Linked DNA regions of Homo sapiens. The protein of the gene in region 7 purifies or fractionates together with the protein of the main gene of each other region. This does not show direct contact. Each region holds a gene or a part of one and is shown on either strand. Other genes may lie near its edges. The genes, in order: HIP1R, ASAH1, ZER1, TKT, UBR7, THOC5 and GOLGA4.

What was found.
Region 1: the proteins of GOLGA4 (region 7) and HIP1R fractionate together in Homo sapiens (co-fractionation; one large-scale study listed by BioGRID). This does not show direct contact.
Region 2: the proteins of GOLGA4 (region 7) and ASAH1 fractionate together in Homo sapiens (co-fractionation; one large-scale study listed by BioGRID). This does not show direct contact.
Region 3: the proteins of GOLGA4 (region 7) and ZER1 purify together in Homo sapiens (affinity purification with mass spectrometry; 3 studies listed by BioGRID and IntAct, with this or other methods). This does not show direct contact.
Region 4: the proteins of GOLGA4 (region 7) and TKT purify together in Homo sapiens (affinity purification with mass spectrometry; one large-scale study listed by BioGRID and IntAct). This does not show direct contact.
Region 5: the proteins of GOLGA4 (region 7) and UBR7 purify together in Homo sapiens (affinity purification with mass spectrometry; 2 studies listed by BioGRID and IntAct, with this or other methods). This does not show direct contact.
Region 6: the proteins of GOLGA4 (region 7) and THOC5 fractionate together in Homo sapiens (co-fractionation; one large-scale study listed by BioGRID). This does not show direct contact.

Annotation. Positions count from the first base shown.
Region 1 is NC_000012.12:122,859,457-122,863,461, reverse strand, and holds the end of HIP1R (huntingtin-interacting protein 1-related protein), read right to left. Parts: coding exon 3,926-4,005; intron 3,691-3,925; coding exon 3,632-3,690; intron 3,416-3,631; coding exon 3,385-3,415; intron 3,315-3,384; coding exon 3,252-3,314; intron 3,040-3,251; coding exon 2,939-3,039; intron 2,784-2,938; coding exon 2,678-2,783; intron 2,547-2,677; coding exon 2,423-2,546; intron 2,332-2,422; coding exon 2,270-2,331; intron 2,155-2,269; coding exon 1,948-2,154; intron 1,757-1,947; coding exon 1,709-1,756; 3' UTR 501-1,708; downstream 1-500. UniProt on the Homo sapiens protein: Component of clathrin-coated pits and vesicles, that may link the endocytic machinery to the actin cytoskeleton. Binds 3-phosphoinositides (via ENTH domain).
Region 2 is NC_000008.11:18,057,800-18,060,107, forward strand, and holds part of ASAH1 (acid ceramidase isoform a preproprotein), read right to left. Parts: intron 1,905-2,308; coding exon 1,773-1,904; intron 1,666-1,772; coding exon 1,542-1,665; intron 1,093-1,541; coding exon 1,036-1,092; intron 1-1,035. UniProt on the Homo sapiens protein: Lysosomal ceramidase that hydrolyzes sphingolipid ceramides into sphingosine and free fatty acids at acidic pH.
Region 3 is NC_000009.12:128,761,928-128,765,427, reverse strand, and holds part of ZER1 (protein zer-1 homolog), read left to right. Parts: intron 1-3,500. UniProt on the Homo sapiens protein: Serves as substrate adapter subunit in the E3 ubiquitin ligase complex ZYG11B-CUL2-Elongin BC. Acts to target substrates bearing N-terminal degrons for proteasomal degradation with the first four residues of substrates being the key recognition elements.
Region 4 is NC_000003.12:53,242,523-53,246,022, forward strand, and holds part of TKT (transketolase), read right to left. Parts: intron 1-3,500. UniProt on the Homo sapiens protein: Catalyzes the transfer of a two-carbon ketol group from a ketose donor to an aldose acceptor, via a covalent intermediate with the cofactor thiamine pyrophosphate.
Region 5 is NC_000014.9:93,213,756-93,217,255, reverse strand, and holds part of UBR7 (putative E3 ubiquitin-protein ligase UBR7), read right to left. Parts: intron 2,328-3,500; coding exon 2,274-2,327; intron 2,081-2,273; coding exon 1,975-2,080; intron 1-1,974. UniProt on the Homo sapiens protein: E3 ubiquitin-protein ligase which is a component of the N-end rule pathway. Recognizes and binds to proteins bearing specific N-terminal residues that are destabilizing according to the N-end rule, leading to their ubiquitination and subsequent degradation.
Region 6 is NC_000022.11:29,519,258-29,522,757, forward strand, and holds part of THOC5 (THO complex subunit 5), read right to left. Parts: intron 1,843-3,500; coding exon 1,741-1,842; intron 848-1,740; coding exon 751-847; intron 1-750. UniProt on the Homo sapiens protein: Component of the THO subcomplex of the TREX complex which is thought to couple mRNA transcription, processing and nuclear export, and which specifically associates with spliced mRNA and not with unspliced pre-mRNA.
Region 7 is NC_000003.12:37,246,271-37,249,770, forward strand, and holds part of GOLGA4 (golgin subfamily A member 4), read left to right. Parts: intron 1-3,427; exon of another isoform or gene 3,428-3,472; intron 3,473-3,500. UniProt on the Homo sapiens protein: Involved in vesicular trafficking at the Golgi apparatus level. May play a role in delivery of transport vesicles containing GPI-linked proteins from the trans-Golgi network through its interaction with MACF1. Involved in endosome-to-Golgi trafficking.

The DNA.
Region 1 (4,005 bases), on a different chromosome or scaffold from region 7:
GGGTAAAGTGGGTGCTTGTGAGGCTGCCACACACCCAGGGACTGAACACCTTTCCAGGTTTCCGGTAAGTGCAAAGGCTGTGTGTGGCCATGGCTCAAGTCCAAGCCAGCCGGGAGTCAGGGTCCCCACCTTAGCTTAGCAACTGTCAGTCAGGCATGGTCTCAGACACACTGAGGGGGTCAGCAACTGCTAGGAGCCCCAGGGAAGCTGTGGGCATTGAGGCTGGGAGTGCAAGTGGCCTCTGTGGAGGCAGCTGGCTCTTGGCCTCCTGTGTAAAAGGAGGGCCCTGAGGCCCATAAATCCCCCGAGAGAGAGATGGAAGGCGGACACACACACAGCCAGTGACAGCCCTGCTGAGCTTTTCTGCAGTCCCAAGTACTCTAGCATTAAATGCAGACATGAATAGGTCCCCGCCCCAGCACCTGGCCAGGGCCGACAAGGGAACACGTGTCCCTGGAGGAATGAAGAGCCAGGCACAGCCCCTCCCTCTGGGGCATCAGTGACAACAAACAGTCAAAGTGCATTTTATTGCCAACAGAACACTTCAGGAGGAAATGCTAACACAAAGCCAAGGCGCTGGTGCTGGCTCATTTTTGCTCCTCCTGACCTTGGCCAGTATTTGGTAGCCTTTCCAGAGCACAGGGTGAAAGGCTAAAGGGCTAGGGCTGGGGTGGGGGGAGCAGGAGGGCATGGCAGCTGCTGGCTCTGTCCTCCCAGCCTGGTCCCACCCCTCCTGCCGCTCTCCTTGGGCTCAAGGGACACACATTCGTTCAAATCTGACGGGCAAAGCCAGGGCCTAGCCCACTCTAGCCGCAGGGTCCCCTCCCTGAGGGCCCTGGTCCAGCACCTGGGTTTCTGGGCTTTTTCTGGCTGAGCTGGAGGGCCTAGGGCCAAGCCCACTCTCCGGAGGGCTGGAAACCACCCCTTCAGGTGGGCAGTGGGGCGCGGCCAGAACGGGGGAATGGAAAACAGGAAATGGGGGTGGCTGCAGATTCCAGCTGGAAATGGAAACTCACTCCAGGAGTGAAGGCAGCGCCCGGGCCGCTATGTCTCACCTCACTCCCCAGAAAGCGGCCCCTTCCAGCATCTGACCCCTCCTGGGGGGCTCCCATCACGGAGGCCCGAGGGCCAGGCCTGAGGAGTAATGGGCGACATTCCTCTAGCCCACACAGAGCCTGGTCTGCGGAGACCACGCAGCTGGAGGGCCTGGTAGAATCGGTGCCCCAGAAGGCCACAGACAGGATGCCTGACCCTCGTCCCATCAGCCGGCACGGGCTGTGTGCCTTCCATCCATCCACGACCTTCAGGAGTCCAGAAGGCAGGGAGCCCCACGCTGGCCCGGTTTCCCAGTGTGCTGACTACAAACGTAGGAAGAAGAGCTCTAGCTCGGAATATTAAAAACACTATTTTCTGAAGAGGAATATTAAAAACACTATTTTCTGAAGAGTTGAGGCTCAGGCCTACCGGGTCCTGGCTGCACCCCAAAGTTCCTTCTGCAGATAAATAAGAGACTCACATCCAGAAGCACCACCCACATGGCCCAGGACCCTGCAGGCTCAGTAAGGGCCAGGGGCCTTGAGGACATTGATCCAGACGGTGGGGCGGGAGGCTTGGGCACCAGGTGGAGGGGCAAGGCCTCTCGGTCCTGTCAGGGCAGTTGCAGAGGCCCAGGCCTGTCACCAGCCACCCTGCTGGACCCCTGGGGGGCCTAGTAGTTCACGAGTTGAGCTGGGTAGATGCCATCCTTTTTGTCAAGCTGCAGGGGTTAAAGGTGGGGGGTCAGTGGTCACAGCCAGGCACCTGGGGCCCCACCTCTCCCTTGAGCAAGCTCCTCCCTGCATGTTGTCAGTGGTCCCTGACTTCCCCAGGGACGTGCACCATGTGCCCCTCTAGGGCTGGGGACAGCACCCCCGTCCAGGAACTCCCCCATCCCAGTGCAGACGGCACCTGGTGGTCCTGTCTGGGGGCCACGCTGGGCTTCTGGGCCAGGGGTGGTTTCTTGGTGGTTACACTTCGGGGGGCAGTGCTGGGCCGGATGGCCACCTCCTCTCCAGGGCTGCCTGATGCCCCAGCCAGCACGTAGTGTTGCTTCCGCAACTCCCCCAGCCGCATGCGTTCAGCCTCCAGCGTCTTCTCCAGCTCCAGGACACGCACCTGTAGCCACACGGCCTGCTCAGCCCAGCCCAGCCTCCCCAGGGAGCTCTCTCCTGGGTCCAGGCTTCGCCCGAGGGATGAGCTCAGAGGTCACGGGGCAGCCATGGGCGCCTACCTGGGTCTCCATCTCCTGCTTCTTCAGCTTGATGAGGGACAGGCCGGAGAAATCCATGGTGTCTGTGGCCGGAGGACAAGGGGGTGAACATCTGGGCACCCACCCCCATTCAGCCTCGGGAGCCAGCAGCCCCCGTTGGCATCTGGCACTCACCTCTGTCCTCAATCTGCTCCTGGCCTGACTTGGTGGAGGCCACCACATTGGCAGCCCTCTCATTGACTGTGCGAGAACATTCCTGCAGGCGGCTCAGGTGGGGGCTGTGCTTGTTGGCCTTCACCTGAGGGGCGAGAGGTCAGGGTGGGCCCAGGTCTCCCAGCTCAGGGCAGCAGCAGGCCTGGGCTTGGCAGCCACAGCCCAGGCCAAGCTGGGCCCAGAGCCCAGTGTGCTGCTGTCGGCGTGCAAGCTCACCTTGGAGGCCGCCACCAGCTGGGCCGTGCTGGCTGCGATCTCGTGGGAGCAGACGATGAGCTCCTCATACTTGCCCGTGTGAAGCACCACCTTGTCAGCTGCCTCCCTGCGGGTCAAGGGCCAGTCAGGGCCAGGGTCTCTGACCCCACGGACGGCTGGCACCACTCCACACCCCCTCTACTCCCTGCACCCTGTTGAACCCCAAACTGCTCCAACTGGCAGGAAGCAGCCCCCTGCCCCCCCCCACCCAGGGCAACCTACACCAGCTGTGTGGCTCCCCAGCCCACAGCCTTGGAGGCCGAGATGAGGCCTTCGGTCCAGCGCGAGTTCTTGGCGTAAAATTCCTGCTGCGTGGCTGCCCCCTAGTGGCGACGGGAGAACAGGGCAGGACATGCCAGTCAAGGACACCAAAGGTGGAAAGTGGCCCTCAAGGGCCCTCTCCCCCTCACTCTGGCCATAGGGCGCATCCCTGAGGCCTCCCTGTGGTAGGGGGTGGAGGGTCTCATGCCCAGGGTGGCCTAGGCTGGGGGTCAGGCTCCTTGTGGACTGTGCCCTGCTGCCGCCGGCCCCTCACCCTGCCGCTCTCCACGATCTCCTTCTGCAGGCTAGTGGATGTCGTCACCAGGAGCCGGATAGCCTGCCGAGACCAAGACAGCAATGACTGGTGGCCCTCCAGGTGCAGACCCCCCCGGGTCACAGCCCCTCACCTTCATCAGGTCTGTGCAGGAGTTGAGGATCCTGGGGGAGAGAAGGAGAGACTTAGCTGCCGCTCTGCAGAGCAGCCCACACGACGCCATGGCGGGCCTGGCCACATCAGGGCTCAGCAGGTGGGGAGGGAGTGTCTGCTCTGAGCCAGGCCTTCCTTTCCCGTGAGCAGAACAGTTGGGGGCAGAACCTTAGGGGCCACGGGGAGCCCACCTCGGCTGGGCCTGGGGGGACAGAAGGGGGGCTCACCTCTCGTTCACCTCCAGCTTCACCCCCGAGCTGGCGTGGCGTGCCTGGTTCATCATGTCCTGCACCCAAGAACAGAGCCGTGAGCTGGCTGGGAGGAGGGGACCGTGGTCCTGGGAAAGCCAGGGCTGCCTCCTGCCCTCTCAGCTCTGACCTCACAGGCCCCTGGAAAACGCCATCTGTCCTCTGTCTGGAGGCTGAGAGCAGGAGTGGGTGCAGCCTGTACCCAGCCCAGTTGGGGCCTCCGGCCCCCAAAGCTCCACAGGAATGAGGGGAGTCCCCAGATCCCGTGCTCACCTCAATCCTCCGCACAGCATCTTCAATGGCTGCGGATGTGGCCGCCATCTCCTTGTCGACCACGGCCCCCAGCTCCTCCT
Region 2 (2,308 bases), on a different chromosome or scaffold from region 7:
TCATATAAAATTAGCTAAAGTCTCACCAAATAACTAAAGCAAACAACTTCAACAGGATCACTGTTTCAGGTAATGAATATAAACAGGCTCAGGAAAGAATCTCCAGCTCCTTATAGGAGCTTATTCCTGACAGCACATTGCTCCACCCCCAATGCTTTAAGACTGCCTTAACCCTCCTTGACGCACAGCTGGCAGTCCTGGGAGACCTGCCGGTGTCCTATGGAGTAAAAACCGTGGAGCTTTGGCTATCCCTATCCTTAAAGCATTTCCAATACAGTGGGGGAAACTGCAGGCACCCAGATCACAAGGCACACACCCAAACACAAGTCACGAGATTGTGACTTGCTCAAAGATGGTATAGGCAAAACGCAAGTATGGCAGGGCCCGTGAACTGAAGGCAGGCTTCCTGTGAGAGCCAGGGTGACCTGGATGCTAAAGGCCGGAGGGATTTGTCCTGGCAGGGTAAAGGCGGCATGTTTACTTTAGGGAGAGCTGTGGAGAAGGACCAAGAAAAGAAGGAACAAATGGGAAAATTAGGGGGGCATATTCAGAACGTTCAGGGAATGATTGTTAGCGAGTGGTGGGATGATAGGAAACTTTTTGCATTTTTTTAAAACTACAGTGTAGGGAAAAGATAAACAGATGTAGTAAAGTTTAAGGGAAACCCGAACCCACCAAGACACAGAGCTCTGTCTGAAAATGGACTGCAGACTTTGTTTTGTTGACATTTAGGTGTTAGTTATATAGTGTGAGATTTTTAATAGATACCAATAAGAGTAAAATGCTAGCCTTAATTCAAATGCTATGTAAATAAAGCTATAAACAATATTCTGACCTATCAAGCCTCAGTGATCAATTTCTTTCTTGTATTCCAAAATACAGTTTTAGCCACACAAAAACATTTTTTAATAAAAAATCAGTCCTAAGCTGAACACACCTTTTGTGCTCAAACTGATCAAAGATAACAGAGAAAGATAAAACATAGGGCCAAATTCTTTCCCTAAAAGGCAAATATACATATAACATTTAAAATACCTTGTTGAGGACAGGTTTTGTTGACAGGACATCATACATGGTTTCAAATGAGATATTCTAAAACACAAGAAAATAGTTTTGTTCAGTAAGTTAAATACAGAAGCCAACAGCCTTATCTACACACATGGGCCACCAGAAACCAAGACATTCTTTAATCAACCTCCCCTCCATCCCCGCAGTGGAGTTTCTGTGGGAGTCACTGTTAGAAACACAGGTAACAGTTTTAATGGATTACTTTCCTCTCTCTCCTTCCCCTTTTTTAAATTCTTGCCTGTTTGTTATTCAACTTCAGAGTGGTATCCAGCATTAGAACCAGAAAAGGAAAGTACAGCACAATTTTGCTCTTTAAGTTAAGAAAACGAAACAAAAAAATCAGTGGAGAGTGGCTAGAGATACTATGAAAAATAGGACGTTTATAAATTACTTGAAGGCCAAAGAAAAATGCCAGAACCAAGGGAATCTTTAATGGCAACAGTTTCTTTCTATAGATGACCCTGCAAAGGTACCTCTTGGCTGGTGCGGTTCAGACACATCTTTGCAGGCGTTCTGCGATCATCAAGGAAGAAGGGATGTTTCCAACGGTCATAATTTGTTTGTACCACATACCATCTACCCTGCTTAGCATCGAGTCTAGATACAAAAGGAGAGATTCCCTCTTAGGCTACATGCCTTAAAACTCAAAGTATATCAGTGTATGCTTTTGTTTCTACTTCTTTTGCTTTAACAAACCTACTTACTCATATACATCCAATGATTCCTTTCTGTCTCGTGTAATCACACAACCTTCCCCAGACTGGTTGCCTCCCAGGATAAAGTAGGCTGGGGCCAATATCTTGGTCTTGGTCAATAAATTCTTGGCTTCTTCATAACTATATAGAAACATTTAAAAAGAAAAATGAAACTTTTTTTTAATTTTAGTAAATAACTTCATTTATTTTTAAATTTTACTTTAAGTTCTGGGACACATGTGCTGAACGTGCAGGTTTGTTACATAGGTACACACGTGCCATGGTGGTTTGCTGCACCCATCAACCCATCATCTAAGTTTCAAGCCCTACATGCATTAGGTATTTGTCCTAATGCTCTCCCTCCCCTTTCACCCCACCCCCTGACAGGCCCTGGTGCGTGATGTTCCCCTCCCTGTGTTCACGTGTTCTCTTTGTTCAGCTCTCACTTATGAGTGAGAACATGCAGTGTTCGGTTTTCTGTTCCTGTGTTAGTTTGCTGAGGATGATGGTGGGAAACATTTTTAGATGACTTAGAACGGAAATGT
Region 3 (3,500 bases), on a different chromosome or scaffold from region 7:
CTGCTTAGTTGTGTATGCGTCAGTATCTTCATCAGAAAATGGGGTAATAATCTCTATCTTGCAGTACTAGAGTAAGGGAATTCCAGCCACAGCAAACCTTTGTTCTATTAAACACCAGGCATAAATTGGGCACCGAAGTCAGACACCAAGGATACAGGTGCGTGCGCGCTTGCGCACGTGTGTGTGTGTGTGTGTGTGTGTGTGTGTGTGTGTGTACATGTGCATGGATGCAGGCATGCAAGCAAGCATACAGCTTCTGTCCTCCCAGAGCTCACAGGCAGTAGGAGGGTGTCAGTTGACAAATTGTTATGTAAATGATTAATTAGTTGCAAGTACAGGGTACTAGGAAATATTTTGTCGGTTGAGTAAGAGACTCGAGGGAGTAAAGCCTGTAAGGAGCTTAGGACCACATCTGGAAGCAGCCAACATGGACGTGGTATGGCGGTGCCTTCTGCTGCTGCTGCTGCTGGTGCTGTTTTTCTCTCTCTTCTCTCCCACTTCCTTCATTCCCCAGGATGTCGAATGTTCATGATAGACCTAGTATTAGAGAACATGCAAGAAAAGGGATGGAGAAAGACACAGGGTTCTCCCAGTGTGGTGGTCGGTCATAACCAGAGCTCCCTCTGTCCTCAGTTGCTGGAATTCCAGATGGCCTGTGACTGCCCTGAGAATGACAATCCCTAAGGAATGGAGTAGGTAGAGTGGAGTAGGTAGAGATGGCTGCCTCTGGCAGGTGCCAGGCCCGCAGCTGGATGGGTCTCAGGGCATGGTAGCCCCGGGGCCCTTCAGTCTCTGTGCCAGGATGTAAGATGGCTGCTTCCTCTTCCAGCTCATTCCAGCCCTGAGTGGCAAGGTCAACACTGCTAAGGGGAGGCTAGCAGATGGCGCCATCTACCTGGCTTATGTTTTGGGGGCTTTTGGTGACCGTGACAACTGACGTGGTGGTGTTTCTTCCACTTGGGGAGCATGGTAAGGGCAGAGCAGCTGCCTAGGTAACTGGGCTCAGACCTGCAGAAAAGGCAAAACCCCAGTGGCTCTCCCTCATTCAGAGCCTCCGAGCCAAGAGGCATCATTTGCAGCCACTGGGCGCCCAGCAGTGTCCTGAGTGCAGCAAGCAGGGAGAATGCGAGAGTGTACTATACCTCCCAGGCCTCGTGCAGACCTCTGATGGCGAGTACTTTGTCATTCCTTCCACAGGCCTTTGTTGAAACCTCACCTTGTGGCAGGCCCCACATTGAGTGTTCAGTGCTTCCTTTGTTCATTTAGCAAATAGTCATGGACCTGGGCCCGTAGTGCCAACGTCCCATGCACCCCCTCTCCTTGCAGCTTAGGTACTTCTTTGCTTCCTCCCAAAGCGCCTTCCCCTTCTCTCCCCTCCACCAGAGTTAACTAGGACTTATCTTTTGGGTCCCAGCTGAAATGTCACTTCTTTTTTTTTTTTTGATGGAGTTTTGCTCTTATTGCCCAGGCTAGAGTGCAATGGTGTGATCTTGGCTCACTGCAACCTCCGCCTCCCGGGTTCAAGCAATTCTCCTGCCTCAGCCTCCCGAGTAGCTGGGATTACAGGCGTGCGCCACCAGCCCAGCTTATTTTTGTATTTTTAGTAGAGACGGAGTTTCACCATGTTGGCCAGGCTGGTCTCGAACTCCTGACCTCAGGTGATCCACCTACCTCAGTCTCCCAAAGTTTTGGGATTACAGGTGTGAGCCACTGCACCTGGCCTGAAATGTCACTTCTAAGGATACCTGCTCTGACTCCCCAGTCCAGGGCAAGTCCCCTGATTGGGCATCCAGAGCCCCAGGCCCCTTCTCCTGCAAGACACTGGTCCCAGTTACGCGACAGGCGCTTATGGGCCCTGTAGGTGGATCTGTCTCCCTCCGGAGCCAGTACGCTCCATGTGGTCAAGGACCTTGTCCGGCTCGCTCACCAAGGACCCCCAGTGCTCAGCAGGGACTGAGTGAGCAGGTCCAGGGAGGTGATACCAAACAAGACAGCCTGGTTTTGCCCTCATGGACCTGGCCATCCATCAAGGATGCTGAATCATCAAAGCCACATCGTACCAAGTGTTCATTGCTGTGGTAGATCGGGCCTGTGGGGGGACTCAGCAGGCACACCCTGGTGGGTTAAGCATGGCTTCCCAGAGGAAGTAACTTTGACACTGGGACCATAGGTATCAGCTACGTGAAAGGAGAGTTCAAAGATCATGTGGGCTGGAGTGGCCAGGAGATACTTCCTGGAGGAAGGACATGGAGTGTATTTGGGTAGGGGAGGGGAGAAGGCAGTATTTAAATTAGAAAGTGCAGTAATTAGTTGAATTTGGATGGTCCTGGTTGAAAGAGAACAGACTGGGCAAAGGTCTGAAGGTGACCTGTGCCGAGGGCCTTTTGCCAGGACAGTGAATGATGAGGCCAGGCTGGCTGGAGTAGGGGGGCAGTGGGGACCAAGTAGGCCAGAAAGCTGGCTGTAATTCCGGTGGGCTTGAAAAGAGTTGCTTTCCAAGAGTGGGGACTCTCTGCCAGCAGTGCTCCCTCTGGTTCCAGTTTCCCAGGCAAGAGAGGCTGCTGGGCTCTTAAAGATCTTGAAGCAAATGAAGGCAAAGGAAGGCCATGCCCGGGGCCCAGGCATCCTGGCTTTTGTGCCTTCCCTCGAGGGTGCCATGCTGCCAGTGGGACAGCTGACACAATGAGCCTTGTTGTGGGAGACCCAGGCCGGGGAGCACAGGCCCGGAGCTGGGAGCCAGGGCAGATGAGGTAGGAGAAGGTAATGATTATAACAACAACATAATAACGGTTGTCTTTATTGAGCAATGACTACATGCCAGACACCGTTCTAAGCCCTTTTGATATTATTCCATGGAATCTTCACACCGTGCTGGGGATGAGGTATTGTGCTGCTTCTATTTTAGAGGAAAAGTGACTGAGGCACAGAGAGGTGGAGACACTTGCCCAAGTTTGTCTCCTCGTGAGCAGCAAGGCTGAAATGTGAGCTATGCCTGCCTGAATCCACAGCCCATCCACACACAGTCCCCAGTAGACAGTGGTGCCACAGTTGAACTCAGAACTGGCTGATTCCAAAGCCCAGTGTGCCCTGTGGCTTCCCGCTGGATTTCCTGAGCAGTCTGGAAGGTTTACAAATGGGCACAGAGGGAGGCTCCCAGAAGCTGGGACAATGCTGGGCCCCAGAACTCCAGAACCCTCTAAGTCAGGGGTGTCCAATCTTTTAGCTTCCCTGGGCCACACTGGAAAAGGAACTGTCTTGGGCGACACGTAAAATACACCAACACTAACAACAGCAGATGAGCTAAAAAAAAAAAAAAGTCCATAAATGTCATAATGTTTTAAGAAAGTTTACAAATTTGTGTTGGGCTGCATTCAAAGCTGTCCTGGGCCACATGCAGCCCATGGACCACAGGTTGGACAAGCTTGCTCTAAGAGATGTGAGGGATTCCACGAGACCAGGTTCCAGTCTAGTTTACACAGCTCCCTCTGTTTGACCTTGAG
Region 4 (3,500 bases), about 16 Mb from region 7:
GGTTGGACTTGAGTAAGAAGGAAGGAGGGGCCCAGGAGAGATCTAGCACAGAAGACTCAGCCCAAGGCTAGCACTGCGGCTGGGGGCAGCTGCTGTCAGGTAGAACCCAGTTCCCACCTAGTGGCCCCCAGGAGTCTAAGGACTCAGCAGCCAAGGGGTGCCGGCATTCCTACGACTGACCCCACATCCTGACAGGACTGCCCGGACACTGCCCACTTGTGAAGGGCACCCTGCCCTCTCAGCACCCAGGGGTGCTGGGCCTCTGAGCCCATGGGGCAGGGAGGAAGGGACTGAGGCTCATGGAGTTACCACAGACCTCCCAGCAGCCTCCACGCATGGGGTGTGGTAGCCTGAAAAACTGGGCCTTGGGCTTTCCAATTGCATCACTGGGCTACTTGAAAGCTTTAGAAATGGGCAGTTTGAGGGCTGCTGTAGCAACTAGGAAACAGGCTTTTGTGTAGAATTTTCAAAGCAAGACACATAATCTCATCTCCTACAAGGCTACAATCATGTATTAATAAAAACCCCTTCTGCCTATGGACAAGGGCTGAGGAAGGGCTGACAAAGCAAGAACCTGCCTTCCAGCCTGGGAGTGGTGGGGCCACGGAGTCCCCTTGGCTTTTTAGACTTGTTTTAATCACTGAGCGGCTCCTGAGCAATAGAAAGCGTAAACTTTCTATTGCTTCCTGCTTCCCAGCAGGAAGCGCTGCAGGTCCTGATCAGCCCTGAAGCCCTCTGGTCCCAGGGTTTTGTTAAAAGTTCAGCCTCAGGGCACAGGCCTCCCGGGAGGGCCCCTCCACATGCAGCTCAGCTCAGCTCAGCTCAGCCCTCTCGCTGCTCCCAGAGGTCCTTCACACGAAGACACGCCGCATGCCAAGCCCAAGGGCACATGCACCATCTGGAGCTCACGCCGCCAGCCTCCCGCCCCTCCAATCAGCGCTCCCACCAGGTTAGGGGTGAGTCACGCTCAGTGCAGACAAGTTAGTAGTAGAGAAATCCAGAAAACTGTCCATGCTGGTTTAGTACCAACATTCTCGCACACGATCATCTTATACTTAACTATTTCTATGAACTCCCGGTCATGGGAAAAGACACTACACCTGAAAGAGGGAGGGGAGGACATGGTAAACGAGAAACCCTTTTCTGCCTGGCAGGGACCCTAATCCCACGCTCCCAGTGCCAGCTTCAACTGGAGGCCACCCTAATCCCACGCTCCCAGGGCCAGCTTCAACTGGAGGTCACCTCAGGCTGACCTCTCGTCCTTCCCACCTCCAAGGGCAGCCCCGGCCCTGAGGGGTCCTGTTTCTAAAGCCATGGTCCCATTAGGAGGGATCCTTGGTGGGAGAAGGATGTGGGTGGACACTGGGCCAAACTGTTCCGGGGAAGAACAAGGACGGTAAGTGCAGGGCTCCACCTGCCCCATCCACCTCGACACCCCGGGGTGACAGTCCCATTGGCCACCAGAAGGGGTTCCAGGGAGAAATGGTGTGGCACAGGCTCTTTCTGTGTGTGGCAGAAGCACACCCAGGCCCAGATAGAGTAAACGTGGAGAGAGGAAGGTCAGCTGCGAGGTGACCAAGGGTGAGAAGTAGAACGTGCAGCTGATTTTAAGCCTTCCTTGCTAGGCCTGCAGCCTTTCATTCCTTCCAAAGGCTGCATCCAGCCTGCTGCGGCCACTCTCTTCACTTCTACCAAGTAAACACGCACAAAAGAAGAACGCTTAGGAGCCAGGTGTCCCCGCACTCTTCCCCAGAGCTTTTGGGGCTCTCCCTCGGCAGAGCATCCTGGGTTGGGGAGGTGAGCTGTGCCACTTGGGCTTCGTGACTTCAACAAGTGCTTCGTCAACCCGGGGCTCAGCTTCTTCACTTGGGAGAGTGTCTGGGAGACACAGTGAGATAACGCAGCATGCACAGTACCCAGGTCTCTAGCAGCCGCCACCACTGCCAACCCTCTCAGCACCTGCAGCTCTTATCTACAGGCAGGGATGGTGACACCACCCACTCCTGCTGGCCACAGGCAGGCAAGAGGGGAGAAATACACCAAGGATTGAGACCGGGCTCTGCACACTGTAAAGCACTGAGCACACAGGAGACAGTTACTTTCAAGCTCAACTTCCTAGCGGGCCTTTGGGGCCAAAGGCATACATTTAAGCCTGTGGCCTCCTCAGGGCCAGAGTTTTTCCTGCCATTCCAGACTGCCTGCACAACTGCAGGTGGACGCCCCATCCCGTGGTGCTGTGTGTGACAACTCTGGGTGAACACTGGCGAGAGATGGGGTGAGGAGCACGGTGGAGGGGCTACAGGGTACTTACTGTATACCCTGACTCTGTGATAAACAGGGCTAACAAGCACACTTGACTGTTCAAAAAAAAAAAAAAAAAACTAACACACCCTGCCTTGACCAAAACAGTCCACTTACAACCCCAATTAGTTCAACCTGTGACGGTGGTGTGGCAAGCTTAGAGCTAGGCCCAAAGAAAGTCTCTTAAAGCCCCCTCCAGGCTGGGGGCAGTGGCTCACACCTGTAATCCCAGCACTTTGGGAGGTCAAGGCAGGCGGATCACCTGAGGTCAGGAGTTTAAGACCAGCCTGGCCAATATGGTAAAACCCCATCTCTACTAAAAATACCAAAAAATTAGCCAGGTGTGGTGGTGGACGCCTGTAATCCCAGCTACTCGGGAAGCTGAGGCAGGAGAATCACTTGAACCTGGGAGCCAGAGGTTGCAGTGAGCCAAGATTGCACCATTGCACTCCAGCCTTGGCAACAAGAGTAACACTCCATCTCAAAAAAAAAAAAAAAAAAGCCCCCTCTCCACTCCCCTCCAGGACAATATATATTCTTCCAGATGTCCCCTGGCCAGGAGAATCTCTGTCATCGCTTTAGTGCTCACTCCACCTGCTCACAGGTTTCTATGCAAGAAAAGGCCAGAGAGGCTCCCTCACCCTCCAGATGGGCTCCTTCAAGAGATAATGGATGTCAGGTTGGGCGCGGTAGCTCACACCCGTAATTCCAGCACTTTGGGAGGCCAAGGCAGGCAGATCACCTGAGGTCAGCGGCTCAAAGACCAGCCTGGCCAACATGGTGAAACCCCGTCTCTACTAAAAATACAAAAATTAGCCGGGCGTGGTGGCACATGCCTATAATCCCAGCTACTTGGGAGGCTGAGGCAGGAGAATAGCTTGAACCCCGGAGGCGTGGGTTGCAATGAGCCGAGATCATGCTACTGCACTCCAGCCTGGGCAACAGAGTGAGACTCTGTCTAAAAAATAATAACAATAATGAAAATAATTTACCAAAACTGACTCAAGAAGAAATAGAGAACCTAAGTAATCTTTCAAGCATTAAAAATAAACCAGATCAGTAGCCGAAGATGCACATCCCTTAACTCCCAGCAACTTCACCAGTAGGAACATACAGTGAAATGTACTCACATGTTCCACACATTCTACAGGAAACACAAACAGGCCGGGCACAGTGGCTCACACCTGTAATCCCAGCAC
Region 5 (3,500 bases), on a different chromosome or scaffold from region 7:
CAGGAGTTCGAGACCAGCCTGGCCAACATGGTGAAACCCCTTCTCTACTAAAAATAGAAGAATTAGCTAGGCATGCTGGTGCATGCCTGTAATCCCAGCTACTTGGGAGGCTGAGGCAGGAGAATTGCCTGAACCCAGGAGGCATAGGTTACAGTGAGCAGAGATTGTGCCACTGCACTCCAGCCTGGGCAACAGAGCAAGATTCCGTCTTGAAAAAACAAAAAAACCCAATGAATGAGAACTACACATAGATAGGTTCAGCATCTGTGGACAGTGAGAGAGATCACTGGAAAGGGTGTGAACAGAAAGGGAGCAGCACTTAAGAACTCTGAGGCAAACTGGCCGGGCGTGGTGGCTCATGCCTGTAATCCCAGCACTTTGGGAGACCGAGGCGGGTGGATCACTTGACATCAGGAGTTTGAGACCAGCCTGGCCAACATGGTAAAAGCCTTGTCTCTACTAAAAATACAAAAATTTGCCAGGTGTGGTGGCATGTGCCTGTAGTCCCAGCTACTCTGGAAGCCGCGTCACAAGAATCGCTTGAACCCAGGAGGCAAGGTTGAGGTGAGCCGAGATAGCACCACTGTACTCCAGCCTGGATAACACAGTGAGACTCTGTCTCAAAAAAAAAAAAAAGGCAGAAAAACAAAAGAACTCTAAGGCAAATCTAAACTGTAGGATGAGATCAGAGGTATGGCTATGCTGCTCATGGTTTGTATGGTGAACTGGTCTCTAAAGATGAGAAAGGCAAGAAATTATGAAGCCTAAGCAGCAGATACCATGAGTAACTGCCACCTTAAAAATAAAGAAATACATAAAGCATTACCAATAAGATAGTTAATGCCTCAGGACCATTCATTAATTAGTTGTTTTGATTTAATTTCTTAGTGTATAATAAAAGCACCAGATAGACTGGGCATGGTGGCTCATGCCTGTAATCCCAGCAGTCTGGGAAGCCAAGATGAGTGGATCACTTGAGCTCAGGAGTTCAAGACCAGCCTGGGCAACATGGTGAAACACTGTCTCTACAGAAAATACAAAATTAGCAGGGCATGGTAGTGTGTGCCTGTAGTCCACTTTTATAAAGGCACTAATCCCATTCACGAGGGCTCTGACTTATAAAAGAGGCCCAAGCGAGCTTGTTTGCCCCTTTTAACAGGTACGGACACGTAGAAGGATCTGTCTATGAGGAATGGGCCCTCAACCAAACACTGACTCTGCGGGCACCTGAATTTTGGACTTCCCAGTCTCCAGAACTGTGAGAAATATCTGTCTATTGTTTATAAATTACCCAGCCTAAGGTATTTTGTTTTAGCACCCCAGACAGACTAAGACACCACCTCCTCCCCAACTGATACCATGTGTTAGAATTAACAACTTATTTCAGTTCTATTTATCTTTCAAAATCCCATTCAAAAACTGCCTCCTCCATTCTCTAACTCTGGTCTCATCAATACTCTGCATCATATCATTTAAGTATAAATTTGTTTTTGGTAGTATCCCAACAAATCTATGCACCTTGTGGAGAAAGAACACATACTATTCTTTTTTTTTTTTTTTTTTTTTGAGGATGGAGTCTTGTTCTATTGCCCAGGCTGGACTGCAGTGACGTGATCTCGGCTCACTGCAACCTCTGCCTCCTGGGTTCAAGTGATTCTCCTGCCTCAGCCTCTGGAGTAGCTGGGATTACAGGCAAGCGCCGTGACGCCAGGCTAATTTTCATATTTTTAGTAGAGATGGGGTTTCGCCATGTTGGCCAGGCTGGTCTCGAACTCCTGACCTCAGGTGATCCATCTGTCTTGTTGGCCTCCCAAAGTGCTGGGATTACAGGCGTGAGCCACCATGCCTGGCCAGAACATATACTATTTTATAACCACAGAGCCCAGTTAAAAATAGTTGCTAAAAATTCTGAATTGAACATACAAATTTCACAAGCACAAGTTTGTGGCACACCAACTTCACAAAGATACCTACCTGCCAATTGTGCAGCATAAGCCCACAAAAAAGAACAACGTTTCATGCAGGCCTGGCATACCATCTCCTGAAAATCCCCACTCTCAGGGGGAATGGCACCAAGATGCTGTGAATATAGAACACCAAAAATTTTCTTGTGATTGCCAAATTGTCCAAAATGCCCATTATTTTATAAATACTGTAATAATACACTGATCATATCATTAGAATTTATTTTTAGAAGACTAATTATAATGTAAAATATAACCTTTATCTTTTTGTGACAACAATGGTTTCAAAAGGTGGAACATTTTCCTTACCCTTCCATGGAACCAGTCTTCACAGACTACGCACTGGATCATCTCATCTGGAATCTAACAGAGAAAAGCAGTTTGTTAAGGATTACATTGAATTCGGGAACATGGAAATAACCTGGCACACAGTAAAATAAGATACTAAATATTTGTTCTACATGAACTGGTGTTCCAAAGGCTTACATTGAGATAAGCACTTTACAAACAATCTCAAGGCTCTTTCACATCCATTACTTAATATCTGATTCTCACAAAACTGTGTAGACAAGGAGGGCATTCCCATTTTATACAAAACTCAGGCCCAGGCAAGTAATGTGAATGGACCAGTGCAGACAGTGACAACTGGGACTTTTTACCACACCATCCTTTAATACAATATTCAGTTGTATTACTGTATAAGGATGTTCACTCCAGCCTTCTTTATAATATTGAAAAATTAGACAATGCCTTTCTGCTGCAGAAGAACCATCCTGCCAAGTACACTGAAAAGTAAATGTTATGAAAAACCTCGATAGATAACTCCTCTAATTTGAATAAATTAAATAATTAAATGCTGGCCCTAGGAAAATAATATACCAAAGGACATAGACTATTTTGGGGATGATTTTCTTTTACTCCCAGGCTCTCATAACTGTTAATTAACATCCCAATGTTGTTCTGTCCTTTTCCTATCGTAGGCTTCTTAAAGGGAATAAAAAAGCACATATTGTGGAACAGGAGGAGCTGTAACACTTTACCACATGCCTTAAAATATCCAGTTTTGGCTGGGCGTGGTGGCTCACGCCTATAATCCCAGCACTTTGGAAGGCCAAGGTGGGTGGATCGCCTGAGGTCAGAAGTTTAAGACTAGCCTGGCCAACATGCTGAAATCCTGTCTCTACTAAAAATACACAAATTAGCCGGGCATGGTGGCGAGTGCCTGTAATCCCAGCTACTCAGGAGGCTGAGGCAGAAGAATCGCTTGGACCTGGGAGGCAGAGGTTGCAGTGAGCTGAGATCGCACTACTGTACTCCAGCCTGGGTGACAGAGCGAAACTCCGTCTTAAAAAAAAGAAAAAAAAAATCCAGTTTTAAGGTTTTATTTTTGTTAACTCAAAGAGACTTTCAATCTGTCCCTCTATATAATTTGGTTCAATAATTATAGTTCCAACGCAATTAGAAAGCAAGGAAGAAGGCAGAAGACTAATATCTCTAAAGACAAAAAGTACTCTTTCAAATCGGTAAATACCCAGA
Region 6 (3,500 bases), on a different chromosome or scaffold from region 7:
GGTTTATCTGCTATGACAGGCCAGACGCTGAGTCCTGGCAGAAACAACACAATATGCTGCGTTCTTGAGAAGCTGTGTCCAACTCCTGAGGAAAGGCAGGCTTCTGCTAAGGGGCCAGGCCCCCTGGATTTCTGCTCATGCCTCATATTTGGTACTTGCACACAAGAACAAGGGCAGCAGAGCCTGCAGACATGAGTCCCAGAGCAAGGACTCAAGTTGCCTGGGTCTAAAAGGCTACTAGGCTCAGAGAAAATGCAAAAGGTACGTAAACTCTTGTAAGTCTAAGACATTTTAGTGTCCTGAGTGGATAGAAGACAGGTCACAGCCCTGAGGGGACACATTCTGCCAGTTCAAAACTCCAAAGGCCATGACAGGCCTTTTTTTTTTTTTTTGAGACGGAGTTTTGCTCTTGTTGCCCAGGCTGGAGTGCAGTGGCATGATCTCAGCTCACCGCAACCTCTGCCTCCCTGGTTCAAGTGATTCTCCTGCCTCAGCCTCCTGAATAGCTGGGATTATAGGAACGTGCCACCACACCCAGCTAATTTTTTGTATTTTTAGTAGAGATGGGGTTTCATCATGTTGGCCAGGCTGGTCTCAAACTCCTGACCTCAGGTGATCCACCTGCCTCAGCCTCCCAAAGTACAAGGATTATAGGCATGAGCCACCGCACCTGGCCTGGCCTTTCTAGAGTCTATACAGGAAGAGAAGAGGTAAGCTCCTCAGCCAACTAGATGAGATCAGTGTACAGACCTGGGGCTGCTCTTTGGGGAAGTGGAGGCCACCCAGCTTCTGCACCCACAAATAGGGGTGACCTAGCTCAAGTACATAGTCGCTCAAAGTCAGGATGCTGCAGAAAAGAAGATAAATAAAATTGTGCTGTAAGTCATTTCTGCTGTGGTCCCAGGATACAGCCTCCTCCCACCCTCCCATGCCCCACAAACCATCCAGTCCTGCAGGTTTGGCCATGTTCACAGCCAGGCTGCTGGCAAAGCCCTTCAACTTTGTCAGTTCCCTACTGTGAATTTCATCTCTCTCACATTCACTTTCCTCTTTTTCCTTTTCTTCTTGCAGCCTTCAACTTATAAGCAAATATCAAATACAAAGGCAGTGTACTAATGTCTTTATTGGTCTACCAATTTAGAAAATCTTTTAAAAATTAATCCTCGGATAATTAAAATGTCAAACATTTTTATTGTATCACGTATTATTATGCTTCCAGAGGGTTTTTTTTGTTTTTCTTTTTGTTTTTGTTTTGAGACAGGGTCTGGCTCTGTTGCCCCCAGGCTGGAGTACAGCGACATGACCATGGCTCACTGCAGCCTCAACCTCCTGGGCTCATGCAATTCTCCCACCTCAACCTCCCCAGTAGCTGGGACTACAAATGCCCACCACCATGCCTGGCTAATTTTTGTATTTCTTGTAGAGACAGGGTTTTGCCATGTTGCCCAGGCTGGTATCGAACTCCTGAGCTCAAGGAATCCACCTGCTTTGGCCTTCCAAAGTGCTGGGATTACAGGCGTGAGCCACCACACCCAGCATGTTTCCGAGTTTTGATCCTTCCACCCTTTTTGTGATCTCCCTTTGCCTTGTAAGCAAGAAAGAACAAACATTTCCTTCTACCCTGTGGTCTTTCCTATCCTCTGGGTCACCTCTGGCCCTAACAGGTCTCCAGCATTTAGCTTGAGCCACCAGAGAAACTCAGAAGTAGAGAGCTCGGAGAGGAGGAAACTGCTGACTCACCCAACTTTATCAAACTGATACTGATTGGCTGGATTCGGAGTTTTCTTTCCATGATCCCCAGGATACAAGCAACTCAGGACTGAGTCAGGAGACAGCAAGTCACTAGAAAAGGAAAAACAGTAAGCAGTGAGAATGCAGCCAACATCTTTCTTCAACATAGGCTTGGGCATTTGGGGATGGTAATGCCACGTCTCACTGATGACCAATGCCACCATTTATTGAAGGCTTTCTGTGGGCCAGACCGTTTATATGCTTGAGGTCATTGCATCCTTACAACCCTATGAGGGAGGATTATCATTTCCATTTTATAGAGGAAAAACTCAAGGCTTTAAAAGATATGGCTTATTCAAGATCACACTGCTAGTAAGTGCTAGAGGTGGCTTTATATTGTCTGATCAAACAGACTAGTACTCTTAATCATTAATTTTTAAAAAACTCATCCCTTCAAGATTTATATGGTGCCTAAGGCCTTACCTCAGGGGAGCAAAGTCCCATGACACCATCAGTAGAAATAATTTCAATTTTCATAAAAGCAGAACAGACTCCTTTCTGCTACAGAGAGAACAAGTGTATAGCTTTGGTGCTATGTCTATCTCACTTTGACCAAATCTTATGCTCATCACAGGAAAAGGCCCCCTGTATGTTCCCAGAAAAAGATACAATCACATACACTGGAGACCCACAGCTACAAGCGGAGAGAAATAGTGACGCCACTGCCACCCACCTGGGATGGTTCGGGCACAGTTTGTCATTAAATGTGACAAGCAAAAAAGAGATAATGTGGGAGGGTAATGTAGTAATTTTATCACAAAGGATGACAAGGCCCATTCTTTCCCTGAACCAAAGGGGGTTCTCCTTCATCTTTCCATGGATAACGTCAGGAGCAACTTGGGCAGCACGTGCCGGTCCTGCGTTTTGGCCCCAGCATGCCTTCAGGAACTCCATGCTAGGACAGTGGAGGCTTCCAGCTCTTCCCTACTGTGTCTCACTGAGTATCCCTGTTCCCCAAGGTCTTTGCCCCCTTCACCACCTCAAATGGAGAACTGACTACCAAACAAATAAAACATTTCAGGCCAGGCACAGTGGCTCACGCCTGTAATCCCAGCACTTTGAGAGGCCGAGACGGGCGGATCATGAGGTCAGGAGATCGAGACCATCCTGGCTAACACGGTGAAACCCCGTCTCTGCTAAAAATACAAAAAAAAAAAAAAAATTAGCTGGGCATGGTGGCGGGCGCCTATAGTCCCAGCTACTTGGGAGGCTGAGGCAGGAGAATGGTGTGAACCCGGGAGACGGAGCTGGCAATAAGCCAAGATTGCACCACTGCACTCTAGCCTGGGTGACAGAGCGAGACTCTGTCTCAAAAAAATAAATAAAATAAAATAAAATAAAATAAAATAAAACTTTTCAGTCTTTTAGCAAGTGTTTAGGGACTATTACTAATAGATTGATTCAATCTATTAGTAAATAAATAAAACAGAACTAAAACTGCCCACGATGAAGGTTATTAATTGACAAAACCTGATGAAGGAATCACCTTCTTGGCAAAATTTATATCTGCAACATATGGCTAAGACAACTGAACTTGGTAAAAATGATGAACATAAAAGGAAAGGCTATTTATAGTCATAAAAATATAACACCAAAACAAAAAAACTTCTCAACCAGTCAAATCTTTGTTATAAAATTTTGATAAAAAGTAAGGGATTAAAAAAACCTTAGTGGCCGGGCGTGGTGGCTCACGCCTGTAATCCCAGCAC
Region 7 (3,500 bases):
CACTCCAGCCTGGGAGACAGAGCGAGACTCCGTCTCAAAAAAAAAAAAAAAAATATGTTTTAACAACAAATACCTATTTTGGATTTTTAAACTCCTTAAAGAACTAAGTCAATAAAAGAAACATCAAGAAGTAATACAGACATTGTAATTTCTTGGGATATATGTAGTACATGAATACAAATATTTTAAAACATTTTTAGCCTTTTCAAGTACTTCTAAAACTTAAAAATTATAGAAGTATAGATACAAAAGGATGAATACATGACTCCACTTAATTGAGGTACCTAGAGTAGTCAAATTCTTAGAGACAAAATAGAATGGTTGTTGCCAAAGGCTGGAGAGAGGAGAGAATGGGGAGTTACTGTGTAGTGGGTACAGAGTTTTAGTTTGGAAAGATGAAAACGTACTGGTGATGGATGGTGGTGATTCCACAACAGTGTGAATGTAGTTCATGCCACTGAATTGTACAGCTACAAATGTTTAAAATGGTAAATTTTATGTTATGTATATTTTTAAAAAATCAACATATACGCCCCTCCTTATGCCTGCAGAATCATCCCTTATTTTTTTCCCTCAGCTCAGAGATGGCAGCTGACCTCACTCTTTTAGAGTGAGACCCCAAAATAATAGTTTATGTGATATAAATTTAAAAAATAAAAACAAAAAAACCAGCAAACAGTTCCACAGATAACAGGGAAAAGAGTCCTTTCTGAAGGGACATAGCCTTATTGTAAATCCAAGTTTACTAAATAGTTTCAGTCTTGAAATTGGGGAAAGCATGAGTCCCAGAGAAAACATTTAGATCAGAAGGTAGTTTATTAAGAACATGATGAAAGGCTTTAATAAGTTTGGTACCTAAAATATAAAGGTTTATTTGAAGAATTAACCCCAAGTTACTTTGACTGCTCTTTTAGAACTGGGATGTCAAATTGATTTGGCAGTGACTTACAACAGTGCTGTGATGAGGATTCAATGGCTGTGTCTCTGCTGTGACTAATCCATAGGTGTTGTAGGGAGAGTGAAATGAACCAGATGTTAGTTATGAACAGTGAATGCCTAGGTCCTCTGCTGGATGTTGCATTTGCTTTGAAGGGTCTATGTAGTCCCTACACAATGGAGTTGAGAGACAAGTACTTTCAGTGTAATAGTGATATATACAGGGTGTTGTAGTTGTGCAAAATAAGGCATTTCTGGAGAAGATCAGGGTGACATCTGAGTAGAGCCTTGATGGATAATGAAAAGTCATGGTATAGGGACAAGGGATTCAAGGCTTATTCCTAAGGATGACTGGATTAGTTTTCTAATATTGCATAACAAGTTACCACAACCTTAGTGCCTAATAACCCAGTTATTATTTTATAGTTCTGTAGGTCAGAAGTCTGGCATGGCATGACTGGGTTCTCTGCTCAGGGTCTTGCAAGGCTAAAATCAATATGTTGTCCAAGCTGCTTTCTCATCTGGAGCTCAGGATCTTTTTGTATGCCCATGTGGTTGTGGTAGAATTCAGTCCTTTCTGGTTATAGGACTGGGGCCTTCATTTCTTGCTGACCACTTTCGGCTTAGAGGCTACCAGCAGCTCCTTGCCACGTGCCCCTGTAGGCATTTTGCTTTCTTTCAGGACAGCAGAAGTACGTCCCTCTGCCCTCTAGACCCATATTTGAAGGGCTTATGTAATTAGTTTAGACCCATCCAGGTAATCTTTTGATGAACTCATGGTCAACTGATTAGTAACCTAGTAACCTTAAATATGCCTTTAAAATCCCTTTGCCCTGTAATATAACAATTATGAGAGTGATAGCTCATTATATTCACAGGGCAGGGGTCATTTGGGGTCATCTTACAGTTTTGCTTATCACAATGACTAAAATGGTTTTTCTTAAGTTTTTGTAGAGTCAGGGTCTTACTGTGTTACTCAGGCAGTCTTGAACTCCTGGCCTCAAGTGATCGTCTTGCCTTGGCCTCTCAAAGTGTTGGGATTACAGGCATGAGCCACTGTGCACAGCTAAAATGGTTTTTCTTACACTGAAATTGAGTATAACTGTGGTCAGTTAATAATTAGGCAGTGGGCAATAAAATATTAATTGTGGGTCTGGATGTAGCTGTCAGGTTTTTTGGTTAACAGCTTAGAAAGCTGACTCAGATTTCTTATGGCTATTGCAATTAATCAGCTCAAGTTTGGTTTGAAGGAACCTAAATCCCTTTATATCTTGAAGTGAGGATAGCCCATTAAGGAACCAGGCACCTGGGACAAATGCTGAAGTACAGTTAGTTCTTTATGCACTGTTATATACTTTATACTCACATCCATTTTCTCATATAATTCTTACTCTTGTAACTCCAGAGGAAGATCCAGAGGAAGATCAACAAGTCATCAGGCCACGTTTTGCCAGATAGTACTACTTTTCTAGGGAGAGTATGTTTTAGAATCTGTTAAACTTTGTAAACCCCGTTATTTGATTTTTTTGTCAGTTTCTCCAGAGCTGATGAGGCTCTCAGTTACTGATTAGACCATATGAGGCCAAGGTGTAAGACGTAATGCCAATTTTTCAGATTTGCAGTGAGGTATACTTTTTAAGCAGTTGGAAGGTCACTGTCTAAGGTAGCCCTTTCCTGGCATCTGGATATTTGGAAAGCTGAATTAATAACCCAGAGATTTCTTAGACATGATAGAATCACAACAGAGAGAGTTGATTAGTCAAGAGGTATTTCCTGTGGTCTAGTAGTACTTTTCTAACTTTTTACCACCCAGTGACCATTTTATTAAAGGAGTTCTTAGATATAATCATTTATAAATACATAGATACAAAAGGCTGCCCCCATAGTGGCAGCCTTTGAGGCACCTACAGCCTTTGAAGCTGGCACTGGCATGGTTTGCAAATTATGGCTCTAGGTGTGGGAAGGGTTTATTGAATTTATCTCAACTTTAATGAAAGCTATTTCTGATGTTCTTTGAACATTTGTAATTTGAACGTGGTGTTCAAGGTAGGCTCAAACTTATTCCAAGACTGAGACTAATACTACACAGTGACTGTGCTTTCCCTTGCCATTTTCTAAGTACAATGTTGACTTTTAGTCACATATTTTCTAGACATTTAAACCATTGCTAAGGCTTCAACTTTATTTCACATTGATTGATTTTCTTGTTTATATGCTTTTTTTTTTGAGACGGAGTCTTGCTCTGTCACCCAGGCTGGAGTGTAGTGGTGCAATCTTGGCTCACTGCAACCTCTGCAGTTGAAGCAATTCTCCTGCCTCAGCCTCCTGAGTACCTGGGATTACAGGCGCACAACACTACTCTTGTTCATGTTTTTAAGTCCTTATTCTTCCTGTTTTGTCTTTGGTGGGAGAGGATATGTCATCCCTTAAGGTGACTTCTGCACATAGCTAATTTCATCTGTTGTATTGATTTTTCTGGTTCATCTTTTAGAAGGTGTTGGAGTTCTTGGTTGTAAGCAACAAAAAGTCAATCTAGGTAAGCAGAAAAATAATTTATTGAAGAC